2 separate regions of the Homo sapiens genome follow, and region 1 is linked to region 2. Evidence: fine-mapped expression QTL. A gene starts in region 2. The other region holds a variant in brackets. All regions are shown on one strand. Distances are between the middles of the regions.

Region 1 (10,588 bases), 530 kb before region 2:
TTCTCATTCTTATAATTTTCTTAAAAGTATTTTCTATTTTCTAGCTCACTTTACTGTAAGAATACAGTATATACATTCAAAATATGTGTTAATCAATTATTTATGTCATCAGTAAGGGTTCTGGTCAATAGTAAGCTATTAGTAGTTAAGTTTGGGAGAGCCAAAAGTTATACATGAATTTTTTACTGCTCCGACCCTCATTGTTCAAGGGTCAACTATCCAAGATCATTCCAAGTAGCATTATTTGTCATGGGGCAAAATTAAAATCTACTCAAATAACCAGCAAAATGAAAAATGTATAAATAAATTGTGATACATTCATACTATGAACATCTTTATAGTGTTAAAAATGACCAAACTACTTGTACATGAATGACATTAGATCAACATTACAGATGTCATACTGAGTGGAGAAAAAAGTCAGACAAAAAGAACATATAATGTAGAATTCTGTTTTTATAAAATTCACAAACTAGCCATCTAATACTCGGTGACAAAAATGGTCACCATTGGGGAAGAGGAGGTTATTGGAGAGGGTCTGGGATTTTTCTGAGGCTGGTAATAGTCTAGCTCTTGATTTGGGTGGATGGTTACACAGGTATGTTCACTTTTATGATAACCCACTTAGTTGTACACTATGCCTGTCTTTATGTACATAATACTTCAATTTTTTAAAGTTTATTTACTAGCTAGCTGTGTGATAGTGGCAAGGTACTTAACCAGCAGAAGTCTCTGACCTCATCCATAAAACTGATATAAACATGACTGCTTCAAAGGATTGCTCTGAAATATAAATGAAATAATGTAGGTGAAAAGCTTAGCACAGGTCCTGGCTGATAAACAATAGTACTTTATAATCACCATTGAGGAGTTTATTTTATTGTTTATTTCCGGGATTATCAGGGTTTGGCCACTTGCAGACAGCAGCCAGGTCTCTTCCTGGCACACCTGTCAGCAGCAAACCTGAGATTTTTCAAGGCCTCCTGGGATACCAGCCTCAGGCTGTGTTTAGGGCTTGGTGTGGTGGCTCACGCCTTTAATACTAGCACTTTGGGAGACCGAGGTGGGCAGATCACTTGAGGTCAGGAGTTTGAGACCAGCCTGGCCAACATGGTGAAACCCCGTCTCTACTAAAAATACAAAAATTAGCCAGAAATCTCTTGAACCCAGGAGGCAGAGGTTGCAGTGAGTGGAGATGGTACCACTGCACTCCAGCTTGGACAACAGAGCAAGACTCCATCTCAAGAAAAAAAGAAAAAGAAAAAAACCGTGTTTAGAGGCCCCCGGTCCTCACACTTGCAGAGGCTCCCCTCCTAATGCCAAGAGTGTTGGGGGATCGAACTGCTTGGAGATGGAGATTGAGCTTCTGTTGTCCAGACAAGTTCATGCCTCTGTGACCCCCCCCTTCCCAGAGGCAGGCCTTTAGGATGCTGAGATTGAGCTTCTGTTGTCCAGACAAGCTCATGCCTCTAGACCCTGCTTCCCAGAGGCAGGCCTTTAGGGTGCCCCAAGGCAGGAAAATGCAATCATGTGATCCAGAGGAAGTCCCATAGAGCTGAGGCATCCCTGAGAGAGGGAGGGAGTTCAGGCACCCGCCCCTGCAGCCCCTCAGCCTCAGAGAAGGGAGAAGGGAGAGTGTCCAAGGCAAACCTGACCTGAGGCTTTGGGTGGCAGGGGAGTGCATAATGAATGCCTCGCTGGAGCACCTCAGTGATAATGTGGGTATTGTGGGGGCATCCCGAGTGGCACACAGACTCCATTCATCCTGTGCACAAACAGGACTCTGCAGACCCAGCTGCTTCTCTGGAAGCCATGGGAGGTTATTAAATATGAGCTACAGCTGCTTTTTTGCCAATTCACATTTTGTAAAGGCTCATGTTGTTTTTGCTCTTGCCTTTTTGACTTAGAGCCCCTGTCTTGGACTTGGCTTTGTCCAGGTATTTCTTCATTTTGAGAGACAGCATCTTCAAATGCAGACATTGCCCAAATCTTTCCTGATTATAAAAATCACCTGGGTTTCTGTTAAAAATACAGATTTCTGGGCCTCAACCCAGACACGCTAAATGCAATGTCTAAGACTGGGGCTCTAGGAACTTATAGTTTTAAAAAGAGTACCAGGTGATTCTTATAATTATTCAAATTGGGAAACCATCCTTCAACCTGGTTCCTTCAAATTCCAGGGAATCTCCTCTGGTAACTGTTCCCATTTGGGCTCCCTTTACTTTCTTCCATTTTTTTTTTTTTAACTCAAATTTCTCTTTTTCTATGCAATAAGCTCTTCATAGTAGTTCCACGTTCTATCCACCCCAAGTTTCTTACCCTTTCCTTTTGTTCAGGCTCAACACCTCAAACTCTAAAGCTGTGGTACCCTCTCTGCAATTCCCATGATGCTGAGATAATGCCCCAAGCCATGGCTTCTCACTCCTATGGGGATTGGGGGCAGGAGGAAATCTGGCTAAATGACATATTATTTAACTCAAATTAAGGTGGATTTCTTTTGAAAACTATCCAATGATTGATAACACCCAGAGGTAACTCAAAGCCGTTCTGCAAAATCACTACAAACTTCCAAAACAGTATTTTGAGAGTTACAAGCACTACCAATAACCTTGCCTTAAAACACCACAATATGCCATTTAAGAGTATTTTTTCTGGTCAGTATTTCTCCATAATCCTTTATCCAGGGGCCACTGCTCAGAATTTGGAGTTAGAACATCTGAGTCTTGTCTGAGTTCTGATTTCAATGTGTGGTAGGAGATATCTCCATCTAATTGGGTTTCTTCATATTTCGTATACACTGATGATAATTTCATATACACTGATGATAATGGCTTACCTGTTTTCCAGAGTTCTTGATCATGTCGTGGGGCTGTAGAAAGAGCCCAGAGCGTGGATGACAGGGGTTTCATTGAATGAATGAATGAGTGACTGAATGAATGAGGTAATGGGTGCCACATCAAGAAAGGCAGTTTTACTAAGAATAATTAGGAACAAATGTTGGATCTTTTTTAAAAAAATAAATCCCATAAGGTGTGAGGCTGAGATCCTGTGAAGTGGTGCCGAATTTGGAGGCAGAGTCCTGCCAGGAGAATGTTCTTCTCTGCTGGTGTCTGTGCTGACCCTCTGCTCAATCTGCTAGTTGCCCAAAAAGACACGTTGGTGATCTTCACTTGAGTTTCTGCTTCTTTTGTCTTTCAGAGTATTGTTGGATCAGGGCTGCCAGGAAGCAGAATTTGATGACAGCTTTTGGGTTTGACTTGCCAGTGAGCACGTTTGGCTGGGTGTAGGGCTTCCGTGGTGTAGCTGGCCCATGGCCTTGAATTTCTTCCAGTGGGCCCACTGCATTTCCCAAATGGACTCTTGCAAAGGGCATCTTACAAGTCAGAGAGTGTGTGTAAGTGTACGTGCATGCACATGTAGAGAACAGACCTCCTCTTGGATGTCCGGCCTTTAAAACGACATCAAATCATCCTCGTCACCATCTGCAAATATGCCTTGAGCACTCAGTATATGCAAAGCACCGTTCTAGATATTATGAGGAATGCAACAAAATAGAGTTCCTTCCATGGCTTTCAGAAATTTATAGACTCGGTTAGGCAGATAAAATCAATAATATCCCATTTATATCAGTCTGGTTTCTTGGTTGCATGCCTTAGAAATCAACTCTGGTTAAGCTGTATTCCAGGTGGGAGGACCTGATAAGCCCTCTTCCAGGTGGCACCAGATGTATGTATCCAGAATGGAGCTTGAGGAAGTGAATCATGCCTGGAAAAGGGTGTGTCTAAGGACCCAAGAGGGAAAGTGTGCACTCGCAGAATATGACTACAAAAAAATATGTAGAACAAATGCTCATCTTTGAAGAAGTGTGAAGGAGAGTGTTTTGACTAGTTGAAACTTATGGAGCTGAAAGAGCAATTTTAAGAGGATGCGAAGGAACTGTTCACGTATGACCCCCTCACTGCCCAGAAATCACAGATGCAAGCCCCCACTGGACACAGAGGGCAGGGTGGGGCCCAATGAGCAGGATGGCACTGATGATGATGGTTGAGAGCCTGGCCTCTGAGAGCAGAAATGAGTGTGCCTGCAAAAGAACTCCTTGCCCTTCAGCAAGAAAGGCACATGGTGCCAGCAGAAAAAGAGGCAGGACCCAAAACGCTTACTTACCTCAATTCGTTGTTCTGTAAAATGAAGATTCTGGACCCTTCCCTGCCAAAAGCAAATGGATGTTGATAATAAACCAAGATAAGATTAGTATAGAGAAAAGGGTGCAGTATATGAGAAGACATGGGATCTGGTGCTACAACCATGATTTACTAGCTATGCGACCTTGGGCAAGGCATTTAACTTTTCCAAGTCTATTTGCTCTTCAATAAAATGAAGTTGGTAATTCTGGGTAGGTAGAGAACAATTGAGATACAATGCATGTGAAACTCTTTGACAAATTATATAAAGTGCACTGCCAGGGTAAGGAACTATGCTTATTCTCCTTTAAAAAATGCATGTGGATGTTGTTATCAGTAAACGACCATGAAGAGTTTTAAGGATGTTCGGCCGGGCGCGGTGGCCCACGCCTGTAATCCCAGCACTTTGGGAGGCCAAGGCCGGTGGATCATGAGGTCAGGAGATCAAGACCATCCTGGCTAACACGGTGAAACCCAGTCTCTACTAAAAACACAAAAAAGAATTAGCTGGCCATGGTGGCGGGCGCCTGTAGTCCCAGCTACTCGGGAGGCTGAGGTGGCAGAATGGTGTGAACCTGGAAGGAGGAGCTTGCAGTGAGCCGAGATCGCGTCACTGCACTCCAGCCTGGGCGACAGAGTGAGACTCATCTCAAAACAAACAAACAAACAAACAAACAATCAGAGTTTTAAGGATGTTCATCAATAACTGATTCCTACGGTTACTTCCCCTGCCTTACACTCAGGCTGCTGGCCTACCCTGCAAAGGTTCTGCTGGGACTCTGCTTGT[C/T]TCCAGAATAAGCCAGTGGCCAGAGAATCCTTTGAGCCAACCTCTCCGTGGGCCGGCATGGAGGTGATGAATCTTTTGTATTGACCCAGGAGAAAGCCCCAGCAACAAAGACCAATTTATTTTCTTAGTAAATCACAAAATGTTCCTGCAGCAAATTCCTGGGACTATGCAAAGCATCACAGTCCCTAGGAGGAAAAAGGGATGGGCTGCCTGGACGGGAGCTGAAATATGTCCATCTGGCCCAGGGAATGTCAGAGTGCACCCCAGCTGACCACATGAAACAGTCTCTATGAAATGCAGATGTTTGGTAGGGTTGGGTGTTGCTTCCCCCGCAATTTAAAAGCCTTTCATGCCTGCTGCTTACTTATAGACTTCTTCCTCCCCACACTGTTTGGCTCAGTGGGTTCGAGAGGGTGTTTTGGGGTGTTTGGATAACAGTGCATTGTGGTGGTGGGATTTATTAACAACAGCCATTCTTCCCCACTCCTGCAAGTTGCTGCCTCATAGTCCATATTTAATGTTTAAATTAAGGTGAATTAAAATTAATTTTGTTGGAGGAATTCTGCAGCTCCCGCTTGAGATAAGTGGAGACACCCTGGGGTGATATAAAATTGAGGTTAGGAATTGCTGCATTGGAGTGCTGTGCTAATGAGGTGAAGGTCAGGGGTTCAATTCCCTTGTGAAGGGAGCAGTTAATTTCACTCTCCCTCACGGCCTCAGATTCCACCCTTAACCCTGGCCATCTGCCTCCAAGAGGAGCCACTGGTCACCAGCAGGACAAAGTGAGATAGAGGACCAGATCTATACAAATCCATCAAACCCGTTAGAATGACAACCCAAAGCATGACCCATGAGTAATGTGCCAGGATTTTTAATTTTGCAAATGACAGCACTATTATATTATTACTTTATATTAGAGTAAACATGTACAAATATGGACAATACCAATGAATCAGATGTCATGGGTTCCAAATTCTCTAAGGCATTACTCTTACTTCCCAAGTGTTTAGCTAACTTGTTAGAGAGACAGCTTAATAAATGTATTGTGTATATCATGGTCACAGTCAATTCTTCTTGAGCCTTAAGAGGGAGAGAAGTGGTGTGGATCTCTCCAAACAAAAGATAGTACCAATATCACTCATATTTAGTTTGGAAAAGATGATACAATTTAGGGACAGCAGATTGCCCTCCTTAATTATGTTTTTCTTTAGCTAATAGTAATATTAGTTTGCATTCCCCTGAACATGTTGACGGATGGCAGAAAAGAGAGCCCAAATGCTCAAAAAGGGAGGAAGTTCAGGATTAAGCATTTGTCAGGGATAATCCACAGAATAGAGATAATCCAACTTCATTAATCAAAAGCTATCTCTATCCTACTAATTATCAACTTACCATTGTCCTTGTTAGAAAATAGAATTTTAGGCCGTTGAATTTTCTCTAATTCACTCCCCTCTCTTGTGTATCTAGGTTCTACTCCAGCCCAAAGGCCAACCTAAGTGACACCTTCTAGCCAGGGCAACACTGGCCTCCGCTGCCTGGGGCCTTCTGCAGCACTTATGGTATATGCTAAATTGTGGTTTAGAAAGTGTGTTTCCTTAGTGCTTGAGGGCAAGGCTCAAATTTTTAGGTTCCTATATGTCTCACAGAGCCTAGCACAACACTGAACATCCAATAGGTGCTTAATAATAGCATGCTCATTAACATTGACAGACTAATTACAGTAAGGAATAATGAAGAATTACCACCCTCTTGCCCCATTTGACAAAATTCAACACCCATTCATTAGAAAACCTCTCAGAAAAATAGGAATAGAGGGGGACTTCCTCAACTTACTAAAAAGCATCTATAAAACCCTATAGCTAACATTATACTTGATGATGAAAGGCTGAATGCTTTCCACGTAAGATCAAGGAGAGGCAAGAATGACCACTCTACCACTCCTATTCAACTTCCTACTGGAAGTTCTGCCAGTGCAATAAAATAAGAAAATAAAATAAAAGCAGATAGTTTGGAAAGGAAGAAATAAAACCATCCCTATGATTGTGAACATAGACAATCCCAAAGAATCTATAAAACAAACCAAAAAAAAAAACCCTAGAACTAATGAGTTCAGCAATGTTACAGAATAAGAGATAAACACATGAACTCAATTCTATTTCTGTATACTGCAATGAACAAGTGGACACCAAAATTACAAATGCAATGCCATTTGCAGTCACTCAAGAGAAATGAAATACGTAGGTGTAAATCTAACAAAATATGTGCAGTACTTGTGTGCTTAAAATTCCTACAAAAGAAACCAAATAAGAGCTAAAATACATGAAGAAGCATTACAAATTCATGAATCAGAAGACTCAACAGTAAAGATGTCAATTCTCCCCATCTTGATATATGGGTCAATATAACTGCAAACAAAATCCCAGCAATATTATTGCATAGATCTAGACAAGATTATCCTAAATGTATATAAAATGGCAGAGAAACTAGAATAGCTAAAACAATTTTGAAAAAGAAAAATGAAATGGGATAGATTAGTCTACCTAATGTCAAGATTTACTGTATAGCTACAGTGATCAAGGCTACATGCTATTAGTGAAGGGATAGATACACAGACCAGTGGAAGTTAATAGAAATAGGCCCACGCAAAATTTCCAACTGACTTTAGATAAGGGTACAAAGGCAATTCAATGGAGGAAAGATACCCTTTTCAACAAATGGTATGGAAGCAATCGATATTCATAAGCAAAAAATAAATAAATAAACCTCAATCTAGTCTCACGCTTCATGCAGAAATTAACTCCAAATTGATCATGGATTTATATGTAAAACATAAAACGATAAAACTTATAGAGAAAAAAAGAGAAAATATTTGAAAGCTAGGGCCAGGCAAGGAATTCTTAGACTTGATGCCAAAAGCATGAGCCATAAGAGGAAAAATGGTTAAATTAGACTTCATCAAAGTTAAACATTTGCTCTATGAAAGACCCTGTTAAGAGGATGAAAAGTCAAGCTACAGACTGGGAGAAAATATTTGCAAACTGCCTATCTGACAAAGGACTAGTATGTAGAATATAGAAAGAACTCTCAAAACTCCACAGTAAAAAAAATAAAAAATAAATAAATAAGAATTTTTAAATTTGAAAAAATGAGAAAAGACATGAAGAGATATTTAACTGAAGAGGAAAATATACAGGTGGCAAATAAGCATATGAAGAGGTAATTTAAAATCATTAGCCATTAGGAAAATACAAATTACAACCACAATGAGATATCATTACATGACTATTGAATGGCTAAAAGAGTGACAACCACAAATGCTGGCAAGGATATGGAGAAACTGGATCCCTCATACATTGTTGGTGAGAATGTAAAATGGTGCAATCACTCTAGAAAACAGTCTGACAGTTTCTTATAAAACTAAACATGCAAGGCCTGTGCAACCTGGCATGCACTCCTGAGCATTCATCCCAGGAAAAAAAAAAAAAAAAAAAAACTTAGGTTCACACAAAAACCCACATGTGAATGTCTGCAGCAGCTTTGTTTGTAATCCCCCCAAAGTGGAAAAAACCAGCTGCCCTTCAGGTGGAAGGTGAGTGGTTAAACAAACTGCAGTACATCTCTATCATGCAATACTACTCAGCAACAAAAGAGAAAACTATTGACACATGCCACAACCTGGGTGAACCTCCAGACGGTTGTGCTGAGTAAGAAAAGTCAAGGTTGCATGCTGTGTAATTCCATTCATATGAAATTCTTGACATGACAAAATTATAACTTTAGTTATACAAAGAACAGTTTAGTAGTTATACAAAGAACAGTTTAGTAGTTATACAAAGAACAGTTTAGTAGTTGTCAGGAGTTAAAGATGGGGCAGAGATGGGGAGAGTAAGAGGACGCAGGTGCGGCCACAAAAGGGCAACGTGAGGGACCTTGGTGATGACGGACATGTTCTGAATCTGGACTCTATCAATGTCAGTGTCCTGTTTGTGAAATCATACAATAGTTTTGAAGGTATTACCTTTGGGAGAAACTGTATAAAAGGTACATAGATCTCCACATCATTTCTTACATTTGCATGTGAACCTACGATTTCTCTCAAAATGAAAAGTCTAACTAAATAATAATCACCCTTATCTGTCCATGCTGGAGAGAGGTGTTACGCTGCCAGAGTTTCAGATCTGCTCTGAGCACCATGATCTGGGTTTACCATCATCCTCATAATATACTCCCTCTTGTATTCCAGATAGAAACAATAAGTACCGAAGAGTCAGCAAGCTGTGCTCAGGAATTGCACCAAAATGATAATGCTCCGGGTGTTGAATTTGCCAGCACGGGGACTCTGGGTGGCAAATAGCGGCCGTGCAAGTACGGATATAGGGCAAGGAACTCAATATGGAGCCAAGTTTCAGGAGGAAGATCAGAGAATTAGATTAGGGAATAGATCTAATCTATTAGAGATTAGCAAGCAAGCAAGCAAGAGAATAATCAGGAGTCTAAAAGTATTTATTGATCAGGAATAAGGGCTGGGCACCTCACTTGGGACTCAAGGCCCTGACTTGGCCAAGCAACAAAGATAACACTTAAGGCCATGCTCATGGTAGGCAGAAGAGGCATTCCCTTATATATCTCCTAGTTCATTCAACAAATGTTTAGTGAGAAATTCTCAGAGGTCGCTCACCAAGGCAGGTGCCCAAGACACAGACCTGGTCAGCTAAAGTTCCCTGGCTTCTAGAGGAAGCAGAATAGCAAGAATGCTTGGGAACACATCAGGAGGAACATCATTTCCAGGGTTGTGTAGTCAGATAACACGTTTTATGAGGAAGTGGTGTGGAAGTGTGGGGTGCAGAGGAGGCGAGATTCATGCAGAGAGAAGGTCTCATGGCCCTGAGCTGAGAGGTTACAGGACCATTAGCACAGCTGGGGTTCTTCTGTAAAGACGGGAAAGCAGAAGTCAGGAATTGAGGGATACGGCTGGTGTTTGTGGGCTATGCTGGTTATGAGCAAAGGCTCAAGTCAGGGAAATACCACACAGCAGGCGATTGTGGACACTCTCACTCCATGGATCACAAAGAACCACAGGCCAAGATAGGCCAGAACACTGGATCATCTTTCCCTGGAGGAGTCAGAGCCCTATAATCTATGAGGCCCTCATGGGTTCTTTCATCCCCAGAGCTCCAGGTGTAGCTGATGATCCTCCTCCCTCTGCTGGAACCCTCTGACTCTCAAATAGGCTTCACACATGAAGCCGGGAGATTGTTTTATACTCTAAATAACTTTCTGTTTCTACAACAGATGGGAAGACTGTATCTTCTAGCCTAATTGGAGGCTCACAATTCCAGGGAGAATTTCGGCTGGGCAGGAGCTCTCTTCCTCTGAGATTTTATTTCCCAGGGACATTCCATACTTGGCCCATGACAGAGGCTGCAGTTGCCCAAGGGAACAATGCGTCAAGGGCCACTCATCCTTTGGAAAGCAGAAGTCCAGATACCAGAGTAAAACCATAACTCATTAACACTTCCAACAAGTATTTATTATGTGTTGAGCAATCTGTGCCAGCCCTGATGACCTAATGGTGAGCAAAACCATGTTCTGTCTTCCTGCAACCTGCAATCTGGCAAGT
Region 2 (10,588 bases):
AACCTGACATAATAAAAATAAGTCTTGGAATTATTTACAAACTTTAATAATCTACCACCTCCTTATAATGTGGTACTGCTGATTTTTATTTTATTTTATTTAGTTTTTTTTTTTTTGAGAGAGAGAGTTTCACTTTTTTCGCCGAGGCTGGAGTTCAGTGGCGCAACCTCAGCTCACTGCAACCTCCGCCTCCTGGGTTCAAGCAGTTCTCCTGCCTCAGCCTTCCGAATAGCTGGGATTACAGGTGTGTGCCACCATGCCCAGCTAATTTTGTATTTTTAGAAGAGACAGGGTTTTACTACGCTGGCCAGGCTGGTCTCAAACTCCCTTGACCTCAGGTGATCCTCCTACCTCGGCCTCCCAAAGTGCTGTGATTACAGGCGTGAGCCACCATGCCCAGCCGGCACCACTGATTTTTAAAAGTCTATCAAGAGCATGAAAAATAAATTCAACATAACACCAACATCACGATCTATGTTACAGCACAAATTCCTTATGTATTACGAATCATATTCCTCAAAAACATACTGTGAAAAAAGTAACATAGCATATATTAGACAGTAATGGGAATGTATTTGTTTACATAAATTCTTAAAGGTAGTACATGGGAAAACTGCTAAAACATACAACACTTCAACTTTAAAACAACACCTAAAAAGTATTACTACATAATCTAACTTTCAATCACCTCAATAAACTGTCACTTAATAAAATTTAAAGATTTGTTGTCGTTAATACAACAGACAATTCAAACTTAAAAGCTTGCTCCCAAGTACAAATATGTTTGGTAAGATCCAATAAATGGCATAAAACCTTCTGTAGCTCAATGATCATCGTAATACAGAAATTACACCAGGCACGGTGACTCTCGCCTGTAATCCCAGCACTTTGGGAGGCTAAGGCGGGAGAGTCACCTGAGCCCAGAAGTTCGACACCAGCCTGGGCAACACGGCAAAACCTCATCTCTACAAAAACTACAAAAATTAGCCAGGTGTGCCTGTAGTCCCAGCTACTCAGGAGGCTGAGGTGGGAGGATTATTTGAGCCCAGGAGGCAGCAGTTACAGATCGTGCCAGCCAGGGTGAAATAGTGAGACTCTATATCAAAAAGAAAAATAAAAAAGAACGAAAGAAATTGGGAACACACAGAAAAAGAAACAAAATTTAGGCCTAATACACTCAACATTAAATAGATTCTGAATTGCAATTTTTGCTAAAGCAAAATACAAATTACAAGAAGCTTCTCATCTTTTATCACATAAGAAATAAAGTTGTAAGAAATAAGCTAAGTTTTTAGTACTAATAATTACTAGCAAATTCTCTGAGATTTGCTATACTTATAATAACAGGAAGTACTTGTATGAAGTTAGAAATTTATTTTAGTAACTTTTTCCTTTTAACGTTAAAAGCACCTTTTTAAAAAATGCAGTAGAATGTAATGCTGAGCACTTAAAATTAGTATTTCTAAAAAGATACCAAAAAATTTGCATTTGGCTAGTATTACCAAGAAACTTTTAAGGCTAAAGTTTCCAACATACTTTCATTTTTTTAAACAGACTACTTAAAAAAAAAAAGGAAACGAAAGGAAGAAAAAAAACATTTTAATCTCAGACTTTCAACTTAACTACATTTCTTTTAACCAAACATTTATAGAGCACCTAAGAAGTGACAAGCACTACAACACTGGGAAATGTGACACATTACATTTACTCCAAACTAAACCTTTTATTTATTCGGCTTCTGAACTTATTATTTCTTACTCAAACCAAAACTTTTCTTAAGAAATTCTCACCCAACATCAAGGTACATATACGAGTTACCTAATAAATGCACTTTCACCACTGTTTTACACAGGTGATGAGAGTTATAGCTAGGATTTGTGACTAACAAAAGGGATTCATTCCTGAAACATGTCTATGCTTCATGAAATGAGATAGGAATAAACTGTTTCAGGTAGTTTACAGCATCCCAAACTCAAAGAGAAAACCTTAAAAAAATTAGACTAAACTTAATTACTCTGTATAGTAGACCAAGATTTAAGTAGCCACAGCTTTTACCTTCTACAACCACAAGTATTACAAATTTTAATTTGGATGCAAAATTGTCAAAGCAGTCTTGATTCTGAGGACAAGTGAAATATTTTTTTAAATAGTTCAAAGGAACTGTCAAAAGTAGACAACGTTGATATTCTAACATGCTATCTGTTGCATTTCTACACTTGTGAACACTCTACCCTTTTCAAGCACTTCTGAATTTGTAATGGATGAAAAAATACAAGCTAGTGTCTAAGTTCCACCAGTTGAATCCAGACTTTTCAAAAATCTAAGGTTTTATTCTAGCATGTGTTTAAAAAAAAAAAAGACAGCATTCATATACATATTCTCTCAAGTAACAAAAATACCTGTATTTTTATCGTTATCATTTCTTCCAACAATTAAGCAAATTTTTTGACCCTATTCTCCACTCAGTTAACATATTGACATCTAAGAGGAACCTGGCCATCAGTTTTCCACACATCATAATGCAACAGAGCCTCTGACTTATTTACAGACCAACCAGATCAATAAAGAAAAATAAACCATATAACCCCAAGTCACTGGAAATACAAGAAACAACTGGTATCTCTGAATTGTGTAAAAAATCACAAAAATTCTCTTTTTAAATCTTTCAATTAAATTATTTTTGTGACGAGTCAAAGAGTTTTCTGCTAAAATTTTACAGTACTGTTCACACAATAAATAAGATTCTCTTTCATCAGTGTAACTGATAGAACCACAATACAGTTCAGTTTCTAGGGTCAGATTACCTGACTTGCTTTTTATTTTACCTTTTAAAACACTTTAATTCATGCCGTTATTCCTCTCATTCCCTACAAAAAGAGATGTTCAATATGGGAGAATCATCTTCAGTTGAGACATCCTATAACTGCCTCCAACTCCACAGCAAAGCCCGCCAGCTGACCCCGGTCTCTCTGGGGAAGGGCTCGGTCACCAAGTCACCAAACACACCTTCCTCTGCAAAACTCGGAAGCCCCACACGACGACCTCGTCGAAACCTCCTACTTCCTGAATTCGATAACCCCAGAGATTCGTTTTCCGCAGGCAATCTTACCTTCATGATGACTCTGGGACCAAGGTATCCTCTAAAACACCAGGTTCAGCTGCACCTGGAGGGGAAACAAAAGACACCCAGTCAACACCACAGGAGCCCCTCTGCACTGGCGGAGGCGGAGGGAAAGAAGCGAGCGACGTCCGAACCCCGAAGAAAGAGCCGCAACCAGGCGCCAGCCCCCGAACCATCACACGCCGACTCGGGGCTCCCTCCGGCCCCGCCATCCCCGCAAACCCAACCACCTACACAGCTCGGCAGCTTCCCGTCCCCATTGTCGAGACCCGACGGAGTTTCCCGTCTACGACAATGACGCCATTTCTGTCAGAGAAGAAACTCACAACAAGCCCGGCGTCCGGCGCAGGGCCGGCCGCTCTCCCCTAGGGCCTCGGCGCCCGGCCGAGCGAATCCGCGCCCCCACGCGCCGCGTCCGAGCGAGAGGCCGGCCGGGGGCCACCGAGGGGCCAGGAGGGCCTGTGGGCCGCGGGCAGGACCGGCCCGCCACAGAGCCCCTGCCCACGTCCCGTTCCGGGCTCAGACCCGACAAGTGGGAGCGAGATCAACATCTGGCCCCGCCGCGGGGACAACGTGAGGGCCGAGGGCCCCGGAGGCGGAACGGCCCCCACCCTGCCCGGGCCCCCGACCGCGGCCGCTAAACCGCTGAGTGTGCGGCCGCCCAGCCAGGGGGCGGCTCGGACACAGCGGCTGCGGGGGGTGGGGGTTCCCGGGAGGCCGAGGCCCCGAATTCGGGCGCCGCAGGGACCACCACCGCGATCTTCCTCTGCTCCTTGGCCGGGCCCAGCGACTCCCAAAAGAACCCCCTTAGGAGACCACGAAAGCCCCAGAAAATATCCCTACCTTCCTCGGAGGCGAGATCTGACCCTGGCACGTCCAGAGTCCCCTCTCTCCTTCTCCCCCCCAAAACCAGCAGGCCCGGGGGAGAGATGGGGAAGAAGGGCGGCGGGTCCAGCGGCTGCTGAGGCAGAGGCTCCGGCTCCTCCTCCTCCCGCGGCGGCGACTGGTACCTTTGTTTGGCGGCCGCTCGGGCTCCCTGGTTGGGGGGAGGGGGACGACGAAAAATCCCCCCCGGACTGGAGGTCCGGGCCCCCAATCGCGCTGCCCTCCAGAGGACGGCGGCGATGGACCCTCTGCAGCTCCCTCCGGGCAAAGGTCCAGGCGGTGGCCGTGGCGGCGGCAAGATGAAGCTCAAGAGTCTCCCTCCGCTTCGGCGACCGAGCTCCTCACTCCGGACTCGACTGACGGGCAAACATCGCTTCCCCCCCACCGACTCTAGGTTCCCCCCCTTTCTCCCCTCCCCTAGATTTTTTTTCCCCCCCTCCCCTACCTCTTTCCCGGATGGCCTCTTAGACGACCTTGGATTGGTTAAAGTTCTTTAGAACCCGCCTATACACTGTTCCTATTGGTCCCTGGATACAAACAACGACGCCATTTTCCCACCAGTTCTATGGAAACAGAAAGTTACGCCTCAAGGCTTTCTGGGAAATAAAGTCCATACTCTGGGGCCAACGCGCAAATCCTCGTCCGCGAGAACTGCAAGGCCCGCAATGCCCTGCGCCTGCGTGGACCGGTGCGGGGGCGGGGGGGAGGTGAAAGGGGCGGGGCAACAAAGCAGTAGGGAGGCGGCAACGACGCCTGCGCAGTGTGACCGGGATGGCGCATTTTCTTGCACCAACTAATGCGGTGTCGCTGGCGGCTGAGGAGGGCGGAGAGTTCTGTGGTGAAATAGTGGGAAGGATTCATGTAGGCATCGGGAAGAGCCTAAGTCCACATTATAAAATAGGAAGTTGATGCGGGGTACAGTTACTCCCGGACCGGCGGCGTGAAAGTCGTGATATCATCGTTGAACTGTGAGCGGCAGTGGCGGCGGCTGGGGGGAACCCGGATGGGAAGAAGGGCGGGGGAGGCTGGGAGGCGGGGCAGAGGAAAGAAAGAAAGGAGAGTGAGGACCCGGATGCTGAACCGGATTGTGTATGAATTTTCCATCCCCTAGCTTTAAGCGAGGAGGGAGAGGAAGGGTTGGCCAAGTGGGGCGGAAGGGAGCATCTGAGCGAGGAGGAAGCAGAAACCTCACCGTTTCTTCCCCTCCGGACTCTGTGCTAGCACTGTATACGTTTGCAGTTCTCTGCCCAGCCGCTGTGGAAAATCGGCCTCGAAGTGATTGAAATTCCCTGTTTATATCAGGCGGCTTCTTTCAGATCCATCGTCTTTCTCCCGGAGTATGAATGGAAGGATTCAGTATGCGCTTCACATTTGTATGTCTCTGGCCATTCTCAAACCAGGCCCTTCCCTTTGAAAAGTCTTTTGCATGGGATGTTCACTTCTTAGACGCAAGGTTGTGTGCCCTGGTTTCATCGTCTAACGCGTTAGAAGGCGCTTTCATTTCTTCATGGGTGTTGAGCGCCGACCACTGGGGTGGCCTCTGCCTTCGTAGACCTGCGCCTGGTGAGACGGACAGATGCTGAACAAAACGATGTGAAATTACCGCAGTGGCAGTGCCCCAGAGGAGAGTTCCACGGTGATAGGAGAATGAGGGAATTTGGCTTCTTTAGGGAGGGAAAGGAAGGGTTTCTGAGCAAGTGAGGATCGAGCTGAGAGCTGAAGGGCTAGCAGGAGTTAACTAAGGAAAGAGAAAAGGAAAAGACATTCCAGACAAAAAGACTAACTTGTCAGAAAGCCCTGTGGCGGAAGGGAGCTTTTCCAATATGAAGAACTGAGCCTGGAGAGATGGGATGAGGGGGAGTGTCGAACCTTTTAGGCTTTGTAAAGGAGTTTTGGTTTTCTCCTAATAGCAATGGGATATCTTCCAAGGAATCTCAATCAAAAGGGAGAGATGGCTCCGATTGGAATGTCATCCCTGGCTGAAGAGTAGAGGAAGCGAAAAAAAGAAGAGTTAAAGAGGCAAATGCAGGGAACCCGACGAGGAGGCTATTGCCGTAGTAGTTCACATGGTGAAAAGAATGGAGCGTTTGTATTAATGATTATGGATTCACTCTTTGAACAAATTTCTGGCAGCTTTTTAGTTTTGAAAGTGAGAAGTTTCAGACTCTCACTGAGGTATTCTGTAGTTTTTTCACTCTAAAAGGAAACTAGTAGAGTTCATGTAACACACACTAATGCCTCTTTACATTTAACTTTAGTATGTGATAGCTGAAATTTCCAGCTGTGATAAATTGGGAAATCCTTTGATTTAAAAGAAAAACAAAGGCGGGTGAGGGTGAGAGTATATGCCACGGTGTGTAGAATCCTTTAGACTCTTAAGAAGACACAAGGCGGCTGGGCGTGGTGGCTCACGCTTGTAATCCCAGCACTTTGGGAGGCCGAGGCGGGCGGATCACGAGGTCAGGAGATCGAGACCATCCTGGCTAACACGGTGAAAGCCCGTCTCTACTAAAAATACAAAAAAATTAGCCGGGCAAGGTGGCGGGCGCCTGTAGTCCCAGCTACTCGGGAGGCTGAGGCAGGAGAATGGCGTGAACCCGGGAGGCGGAGTTTGCAGTGAGACGAGATCACGCCACTGCACTCCAGCCTGGGCGACAGAGTGAGACGCTGTTTCAGAAGAAAGACACAAGGCAAGTTGGTTGTCGATACCTGGAAAAATTGAAGTTCTTATGTTTTCATACCACTGAAAATGCTTGTATGTAAATATCCTCTGGGACAGGAAATTGACTTAAGTGAGTATTCTTAAACATCTCTAAGTGAGGAAAGGAAATATTTTTTAAAGCATAATTAGTGTTTTAAGTTGAAAAATAACATCAACCACAAAGCTCTACGAATTGAAACAAAGATTAGCTCTGATTTCTGTGCAACAGGGTACACCTGTTACAGGTCCTGACACAAAAGGGAATTCTGAAAGTGCATCTCATTGATTTTTAAGTTCGGTCAAATGTGTTTTGGAGGCTGTGAGAAAATATACAAACGTGATTCTTGCTCCCAACTTGTAGTTGAGAAAAGATAGATACTAACATTTAAATAGAGAAGTATATGAGATCCTTTTTTAATTCTACTTTTAATGATGTTCGATAATAATCTTTTAGCTAAGCCATTATTCTTCCTGTTTTGCATCTTCTTTTCTTACTTCAATCCCTGATAATAAGGTCACGTGTCAGAGATCAAATAGTATAGGTAATAGGTTACCTAAATAGGTATTTGCATAATAGGTTACCTAACTAAATAGGTTTTTGCCTAATAGGTATGTTGATTATTTCGCTTACTTGATTCTTTATGAGCCTTTTTTTCCTTGCGACGTCTTTGGTATTAATTGTTAGTCAAGATGGATGTAGAAATTTTCCATATGGGATGTTTCTCTTTGAATTCATGTTGTTAAAATGATTTCTTTTGGTGGAGTGCTGATCTTTTTTATGATTGTTTCATATAGATAAGAACAGACTACAAAAAAATATGCCTTTCAATCCTGAAGAGTAACCTGAACTATACACTAGTTTTGTGCTTTAATTTTCATTTGTAATCTGCCTTCAATAAAGAGTTAAGCTAGTGGAATTTATGTCTTAGCTTGTTATAACACAAACACGAATATTTGTCTGCTTGGCATTAAAGGGTAAAGATATTCCATAGCTGGGAATCTTAATCTGAGGTACGTGTAAACATTCAGGGACTATATGATCTCTGAGAATTTGTATGTTGTAAGTCTTTGTGGCAGTGTATACATTTGTGTTGCAACTTATTAACACATACACCGGGCTTTTTTTTTTTTTTTTAGAAGATTCATAGCTTTCATCATATTCTCAAAAGGTTTCTGTGACCCATGAGATGGTTTACAGTATGGGGAAGCATCAAAGCACTTGCACAGTTGATGGTTATATGTGTGTGTTATTATTTCAGCCACCCATTATCATGTGCTTACCAACTGCCTAACAGTGCATACATATGTAGAAGTTTTATTCTTTTCTCCTGTTGCCATATTATACGTCTCATTTCACAGCAGAAAAACAACTGCATGACAGAGACAATGTGGTTCAAACCATTTTACCCTTGTATTCATTGACTGCTACAAAACAGGAACATTAAATACCTGATTGTCACCAAATTGGGTAGTCTCAGCACTTCTACACTCGTAATTGTGCTGGAAAAGTGGAATGCTAGCACTAATAATTAGATTTTGGTTTGGAGGGTTTTTTATTTGTTTATTCTTACTTGTATAAATTTATGGGGTGCAAGTGTAGTTTTATCACATGCATAGATTGCATTGTAGTGAAGTCAGGACTTTTAGGGGGTCCATCACCCATGTAATCACGTTGTACCCATTAAGTAATCTTTCATCATCCACCTCCTTCCCACCTTCTCACCCTTTGGAATCTCCATTGTCTATCATTCCACACTCCATGTCCATGTATACACATTATCTAGCTCCCATTTATAATTGAGAAGATGTACTATTTGTCTTTTATGTCTGACTTGTTACACTTAAGGTAAGGGCTATCCATCCATTTTGCTGCAAATGACATGATTTCATTTTGTTTTAATGGCTGAGTAATCATTCGTTGTATATATACCACATTTTCTTTATTCAGTCATCTGCTGATGGACACTTAGGTTGATTCCATATCTTTACTATTGTGAATAGTGCTGTAATAAACACATAGTGCAAGATTTTGGAAATTTTACTTTTGTGGCACGTTGTTGGTATTTACTCAGGATCTTTGGATTTGCTTGGCTGCATGTATATGAATCAGTGTGTTTATTTACTGAAATATGTGCAAAAGTCTTGTCTTTGGTGGATTAATTTATAATATAAATCCACAAAAGTCAGATTCTGCTCCTAAGTATATTTTACATTTTTAAATTTAATGCCAGCAAGAAGTTACAGTACTAGAATTGCCTTACCCCTGAGAGTATCAATGATCAGATCATAGTATCAGGTGACTGGGCTATAGAAGATGACTTTTATTACTTAACATTATGAAGTTACTAGGGCTGATTTAGAAATCGAGGAACACTGGTGAAACCCCGTCTCTACTAAAATACAAAAATTAGCTGGGCGTGGTGGTGGGCACCTGTAGTCCCAGCTACTCAGAAGGCTGAGTCAGGAGAATTGCTTGAGCCCAGGAGGCAGAGGTTGCAGTGAGCCGAGATCGTGCCACTGCACTCCAGCCTGGGCGACAGAGTGAGACTCCGTCTCAAAAAAAAAAAAAAAAAAAAAAAAGGAACACATCCTCACTGTTACAATAAATAACAGTAGCCCACACCCCCTTAGTTGTGATGTGGTGTGATACCATGTAAGCAACCTATTTCCAGTTCCCCTAACATTCTCAAGCAGCTGTATCAGAATCATACAAGATGCATATTTAAATTGAAGATTTCTAAGTCTCTGGCCCAGACTTAGAAAAAAAGGATCAGGCCGGGCACAGTAGCTAACACCTGCAATTCCAACACTTTGGGAGGCTGAGGCGGGTGGATCGCCTGAGGTCAGGAGTTTTGAGACCAGCCTGGCCAACATAGTGAAACCCCATCTCTACTAAAAATTCAAAAAATTAGCTGGGCGTGGTGGCAAGAACCTGTAATCCCTGCTATTCGGGAGGCTGAGGCAGGGGAATCACTTGAACCCGGGAGGTGGAGGTTGCAGTGAGCCAAGATTGCGCCACTGCACTCCAGCCTGGGCAACGAGCAAAACTCCGTCTCAAAAAAAAAAAACAAAAGGACCTTTGAGCAATCAGAATAACACAAAGTACATGAACTGAACTTCATTTTCTTCATTCAAAAGAAAGTGGCCCTCACTCAAGCAAATATATTCTTGTGCTTTATCTTCTGGCATACTGAGATAACTTTCTAAAGTGGTTTCCAATTCCAAAATCCAATGATGTGCAACTCATTGAACAGCCCTAACCACAAACTGCCATTAGATGCCATATTACATTTAGCCTTTTTGTTGTAGAAAAGTTGGTTAGAAGTGGGCTCAGGATTCTAAAGACTAAATCATAGTCCCAAGAAGCAAAAGAAAGAGGATAAAAGTAATAAACTTCCCAAAATGTGCCAAAGATGCTAGAGCAGTTAGATTCCTAATATGAGGACAAGTAATAATAGAAACAGATACAAAGAAATAAAGTAGAGATTCAACAGTACAGGGAGACCCTAGGAAGACCATGAGTGTTATTCTAGGAAATACTGAAATAAGACAGATTTCAGTATAAAGGGGAATATGTTTAATAAATATATGCATTTGAGTTAATGCGTATTTTAAATCAGAAATCTCTGAAATGGATTGATTGTAGAGAAACTACTAGGGGGACGAGGAGAATCCCTTTAAATTTTAAATACATAAAACATACTCATCTTAGTGCTCATTTAAAAAAGGATATGTTTACTAATTAGTGTAATCAGTTAAATACAGAGGTATCTTTCCAATTCTTTGGATGTGTTTTGACATTTGCCGTCAACAAATTAAGCCTTTTGTGGTTGATTAAAATAGGAAAAGCTTAATATAAGTTATGTGACTAAGAAAACAAC

Which allele goes with the higher level. Alleles are on the strand shown, and positions count from the first base shown. SD is a standard deviation of normalised expression in the study named.
In carriers of allele C in region 1, the expression in hippocampus of the gene that starts at base 4,375 in region 2 tends to be lower than with T alone (large effect, 0.76 SD a copy in GTEx).

Evidence for each region.
Region 1: its variant is fine-mapped to the expression of ARID4B in hippocampus (GTEx, PIP above 0.99).

Annotation. Positions count from the first base shown.
Region 1 is chr1:234,790,896-234,801,483 of GRCh38, forward strand. It overlaps LOC124904557 (a long non-coding RNA gene), which reads right to left and starts at 3,505. Exons shown (of 3, transcript XR_007066954.1): 1 at 2,837-3,505. The variant C/T (reference allele first, on the strand shown) is at 4,969.
Region 2 is chr1:235,323,805-235,334,392 of GRCh38, forward strand. It overlaps ARID4B (AT-rich interaction domain 4B), which reads right to left and starts at 4,375. Exons shown (of 24, transcript NM_016374.6): 1 at 3,965-4,375; 2 at 3,110-3,164. The coding sequence starts at 3,115. GGPS1 (geranylgeranyl diphosphate synthase 1) reads left to right here and starts at 4,766. Exons shown (of 4, transcript NM_004837.4): 1 at 4,766-4,974. RefSeq lists enhancers at 3,056-3,245, 3,264-3,789, 4,526-4,585, 4,826-4,915, 5,416-5,565 and silencers at 3,496-3,585, 3,596-3,825, 3,996-4,045.